Regions from separate parts of the Homo sapiens genome. Here region 1 is linked to region 2. Evidence: fine-mapped expression QTL. A gene starts in region 2. The other region holds a variant in brackets. All regions are shown on one strand. Distances are between the middles of the regions.

Evidence for each region.
Region 1: its variant is fine-mapped to the expression of LINC02475 in testis (GTEx, PIP above 0.99).

Annotation. Positions count from the first base shown.
Region 1 is chr4:44,087,607-44,090,533 of GRCh38, forward strand. No RefSeq gene overlaps it. Among named protein-coding and RNA genes, the nearest start is that of LINC02475, 72 kb to the left of the region's middle. The variant G/A (reference allele first, on the strand shown) is at 1,771.
Region 2 is chr4:44,015,086-44,018,012 of GRCh38, forward strand. LINC02475 (long intergenic non-protein coding RNA 2475) reads left to right here and starts at 1,776. Exons shown (of 2, transcript NR_131959.1): 1 at 1,776-1,977. It overlaps LOC105374438 (a long non-coding RNA gene), which reads right to left and starts at 1,990. Exons shown (of 5, transcript NR_188377.1): 1 at 1,523-1,990; 2 at 844-1,001.

The DNA.
Region 1 (2,927 bases), 73 kb after region 2:
CCTCTGGCTAACTAGGTTGCTACTTTACTAGAAAAAGGGCCAGTCCCATTATTTTTTCTCAGAAATTTGTATTTTATGTACTTTATCATAAATACTATTTGTTTCCCAGAAGGAGATTATCAGTTTCCTCACCAAAATAGCTTATTTTCCGAACTAAGTTTTTAACTTTTTTAAAACAGGTGCTAGCAGAAGGGAGATAAGGGTTCCAATCTACCCTCTTGTCCAGCAAAAGTTTTGACAAATTTACATTTCTTCCACAGAAAGATGTATAAATTAATGTATTCATGTAACATTTACATTTAATCTAGTTTCAAATACTAGGAGAAGACTTATTAAAGTAAATATGAATCTTTTCATAAAAGCAAAAATATTTTTGGTGATTTAAATGATCACTGGCAAAGCTTCCAGGCTCCATCTTTCACTTTTTTGGCAGTTCAGGGAGGTTAGAATTTTGTGATGGCTTAAAGAAACATATATCAAGAATCTAAGATATTTGTTATTGTTTTGCATATTATTCATGCTGTTTTGTGCATTCATGTCTGAATTAGTCAATGTCATGGTCCAATATGCACTCACTGAAACCCAACTTCACAAGGCTTTTATAAAGCGAAATATAATATTTAAACAATTCTCCTCCTATGTGTTTCACATCATAGAGGCTGATTTTTAACAAAGAATGGAAATAATAGAAATATTCCAAATCAATTTACTAGGTAAAAAGGGAAACAGAGAAGCAATTATGCAATTATCTCCATGCAAAGGCTTTCAGAGTTGTTCTGCCTAGAGGAGATAATATGCAGTATGGAGGGAAGAGGCAAACAAAAATGGCTTTAGCTCACTTAATTTCAAATGGAATGCAGCTAATGTTCATATTCTGAATAGATATTAATTTGTCATCCTTTTAGCCACTTGTTTTGTATATCGTATTTCTGGTCATTATTCCCCTTATTTTAGGCATATTATTTTCTCTTAACACAAGAATACAAGTTTCAAGAGTATTGGGATATTTTAAAGTTATTTTCTATATTGCTATATCCCATAATCTAACATGGCATCTGGCAAATAAGAGATGGTCAATAACAATTTTTCACTGAATGTTGAATGAGTTTATTCTATTTAGAAATACTGAAAACAGCCATCATGCTACACTTTAGGAAGGGGGAAGGAGAGAAGAAAAGAGAATTTCCAACAAGTTTATAAATGTTTTGAATATGGAAAATCTATATGATATCCCTTTATATATTCAAAACCTAAAACCTTTCAGTAACAAATATGAAAACACCTAACATAAAATATAATAAATATTGTTAATGTAATTATCACCAGTTAATTCATTCCCAAAGGAAAACTATAACAAAATTTTGAGTTCTTTCGCTTGCATACATTCCAAAAAATCCAATTCAATGGATAATTTCTTCATATCACTTCTCTCTCACAGGTCTCTAAAAGAGAAGAGAACTATATAGGCAATAGTTGTTTCAGAACAAGAATGTGCTCATTATTTTATAGTCTGGAAAACCAACTAACCCTTCTCAGAGAAGAAGCCTACTTCAGGAGTCTCATTGCATTTAGGGAATAAAAGTTAGTTTCATTATGATTATTCTTCATTAAGAAATAAAGCTTGATTCTTTTTTTGCATCAATCCTAGCACAGTTCTTAAAGCACAAGATGATTTAAAATTCTTATTGACTAAATGAATGGTATGATAGTGAGTAAACTTTGTCATAATACAAGAGGGTAGGAGAATTGAGCAATGCATTCTTCATTACT[G/A]TAGATAACCCAAGTGTCACTTTTAGTTGATTTGAAGATATATATTCTGTATGCTTATTTACTTATGATGAGTCTGCCTAAATATTGAAGAAATTTGGCATAGTGGAAAGAATTCTGATCCTAAAGTGACAAGTCCTGGGTCTAAAACCTAGGTTCGCTCCTTCATTAGCTGGGTGATTTTGGAAATGTAGTGTCCTCATTTCAACAACAACAACAAAATAAGAAACCTGCTGTGAAATATATCACAGATTTGTTTTAAAAATCAAAAAAGATAATGGATATAAAACAGAGGTATTGACTACTGACGCTTAGCAACTCACATGAATAAAATGTTGAATAAGATATAGTCCTGCTCTCACACCACTTAGCTAGTAGAGATAATAAGCACATAAACTAGAAAGTTCTGTATAAATGAGTCTTCAGCAGAATGCTGCAGAGACATGATTCTGGAGGAGCCTTGCAATGGTCTAATTTTTCACTTCAACTCCTTACTCAACAGTTTCTTGCAATCAACTTTCTGAAGTCTCTTTTTACTCTAAGAATGGACAAGTCTATTTTTGAAAGATGTTTTCTTTCCAATCCTGTCTTCAGTGAGCAATATCAGTTCTAAGGCATGGCCTATCCCTGAAATCTAAGAGAAATAGAAGATGGAAATATCTACATAGCAAATAAATATTTTTGGTTACTATTCACATTGTAAATGAAAAAAAGATTTAACTGAATAATTGAGTTCTGAAAAGCAATAGCTTTTAAATATTCCCCAAATATTTAAGAAATTTTATTAACTCAAATAACTAATTTTTATGATGCTTTCTTTATCTCTCACCACTAACTGTGTGGCCTTGGGCAAGTTATTTAAATTTTATATATTTCAGTCACTCCAAATGTAACTTGGGAATAATAATAACACATACCTCATAAAATAGTTGCAGGGTGCCATTTGAATACTGAGCATGGGAGTATATATTATGCAATCCATACATTTTAGCCTCTATTATTATTCTTTTATTCACAGAGAATATAAGAGTTCTTCATACGTGACCTTCCTGGTCATATGCTGAGCTCTGAAATTCCAAACCAGTTCAAATAGTCATCTCCCTCTGGCTTCCTTCCATTGGACTAGCAAAGATGATGCAGTAACTTTACCTTAGTCAGGC
Region 2 (2,927 bases):
GACTATCCCTATTGATTAATTAGGAAGGTAATCCTGGCAACATCATATAGACACCTTTATATTACAAACTTACAGAGTTTATTCATAAACACTAATCTGGTCCTTGCATGTTCCCCCTCAGGATAGCTGCTAAAATTTCACCAAACCTTTTCTTTTTTTTAAATGATATCTCTTTAAAATTATTTTAAATTGATCTGTAATATATATACATATTTTCAGGGTACATGTGATTTGATACACTCATATAATCAAATGAAGGTAAATGGAATATCCAACACCTTAAATATCTATATTTTATTGATGTTAGGAACACTTGAATTTTGCTCTTCTGGCTATTTTGAAATGTTAACTATAGTCACCCTACTGCTCTATCTAACACCAGGACTTATTCCTTCCACCTAATGCATATTGGTACCCATTCATCAACCTCTCTTTATCTGCTCTGATATGGTTTGGCTCTACGTCCCCACCCAAATCTCATATTGAATTGTAATTCCAATGTGCTGGGGGAGTGACCCGGTGGGAGGTGACTGAGTCCTGGGGGCAAGACTTCTCCCTTGTTATTCTCATGATAGAGCTCTCAGGAGATCTGGCTGTTTGATAAATGTGTGGTGCTTTCCCCCGCTTTCCCCTTGCCTCTCCTGCCACCTTGTGAAGGAGGTGCTTGCTTCTCCTTCCACCATGATTGTAAGTTTCCTGAGGACTTCCCAGCCATGCAGAACTGTGAGTCAATTAAACATATTTTCTTTAAAAATTACCCAGTCTCAGGTAGTTCTTTACAGCAGTGAATCTACTCTCTGTCTTCACCCAATGTTTTCTACTCACTTGACTTTCTTTACTTACTCTCATCCCAGTTCCAGCCTGTCTCCAGACCCAAAGAGAGTTCATCACCCCTTGACTGAATAGAGCCTCTGGACTTCAGCTTCCAGTGGTTAGCAGCACCACCTCACTCCAGGAGAGCTGCAGGACCAGGCAGCTCTGTGCTCCCTTCTGTGTTTTATCTGATGGCATTTAAAAATTACATAAGATAATAATAGAGAATAATATCCTCACCCCATTAATGTGTCACACAACAATATTTTGGTCAACAACAGACCGCATATACACTGTGGTCCCATAAGATTATAATGGATCTGAAAAAATTCCTGTTGCTTAGTGATGTCTTAATGACCCTGTGTAGGCCCAGGCTAACAAGTGTGTTTTGGTCTTACTTTTTAACAAAAAAATGTTAACGGCAAAAAACAATCAAAATAAAAAATAAATAAATAAATAGAAAAAAACTTCTAGAATAAAGATATACAGAAGGAAAATATTTTTGTGTACAACGTCTTTGTGCTTTTGTTGCCTGTTTAGGGTAGTTGTCCAGGTTCTTGGCGTTTTTAACAGAGAATTGAACAAAACACACAAACAAAGCAAGGCAGTGAAGGCAGGGATTTAAACAAAGTACACTCCATAGGGAAGGAAAGGCCTTGAGCAAGCAGCTCAAGAGCATTGATTACAGAATTTTCTGGGGTTTAAATACCCTCTATAGGTTTCCCACTGGTTCATTCTGCGCAAATCAGTCTGATTGGTTGCAGGAGGGAACCGGTTGGAGGTACTTTCATTTTCAACTGCCACACAGAAAAAGGAGGGGTTGCAACTGCCACATAGCAACTGACACGCCGAAAAAGGAGGCGTTGCAACTGCCACACAGAAAAAGGAGGGGTTGCAACTGCCACGCAGCAACTGCCACGCAGAAAAAGGAGGGGTTGCAACTGCCACGCAGCAACTGCCACGCAGAAAAACGAGGGGTTGCAACTGCCACGCAGCAACTGCCACACAGAAGAAGGAGGGACTGCAACTGCCATGCAGCAACTGCCACACAGAAAAAGGAGGGGTTGCAACTGCCACGCAGAAAAAGGAGGGGTTGCAACTGCCACGCAGCAACTGCCACGCAGAAAAAGGAGGGGTTGAAAAGGGAGTAGCTTCTGATATTCAGTAAGTACGAATCGGCCTTAGGTTCCCTGCCTCAAGACCCTATTCTCCTGCCTCACTTTTAGCTAAGGGTTATTACAAAAGAGTCAGAAAGTTAAGACAAAATATGAAAGTTTATAAAGTAAAAAGAGTTACAGTGAGCTAAGTATAACTTATTGAAAACATTTTTTTAATTTAGTATAGCCTAACTGTGTTTATACAGTCTACAGTAGTATACAGTAATATCCTAGACCTCCACATTCCCTCGCCACTCACTCACTCACTCACCGACTCACTCAGAGCAACATCCAGTCCTGGAAGCTCCATTCACAGTAAGTACCTTATACAGGTATACCATTTTTACATCTTGTATAGTGTATTTCTACTGTGCCTTTTCTATATTTAAATTTATTTAAATACACAAATATTACGTGTTAAAATTGCCTATAGGATTCAGCACGGTAACGTGCTGTACAGACTTGTAGCTAAGTAGCAATAGGCTCTGCCATATAGAAGGTGCAGTAGGGTATACCATCTAGGTTTGTGTAAGTACACTCCTTGATGTTGGTACAACAATGAAATCACCTAGCTGTGCATTTCTCAGAATGTATCCCCACTGTCAAGTGATACATGACTGTATATTAATATGAAGATGAAACCTAGCTATGTAAAGAGATTTTTTTACATGTGCATTTTTCTTCATCTGTTCCCAAAGCTCCCCTAAAATGCAGTGAAGATATTTTTTAAATTATAAACCCACTAACACAAAGAAAAGAACAATAGCAATAACATTTTAAATCTAGAAAAAAAGGAAAATTTCTTAGTGGTTGACAGAAACTTAAATCCTAGGCCAGTTTTGGGAAAATTAGAAAAAAATCAAAGGAACATAATATATAACTCAAAACCTGCAAATTGCTCAGAATTCAAGAAGTCAGATATTTCTGGAAATAGGAGAGATGGTGGATCTAAAAAGA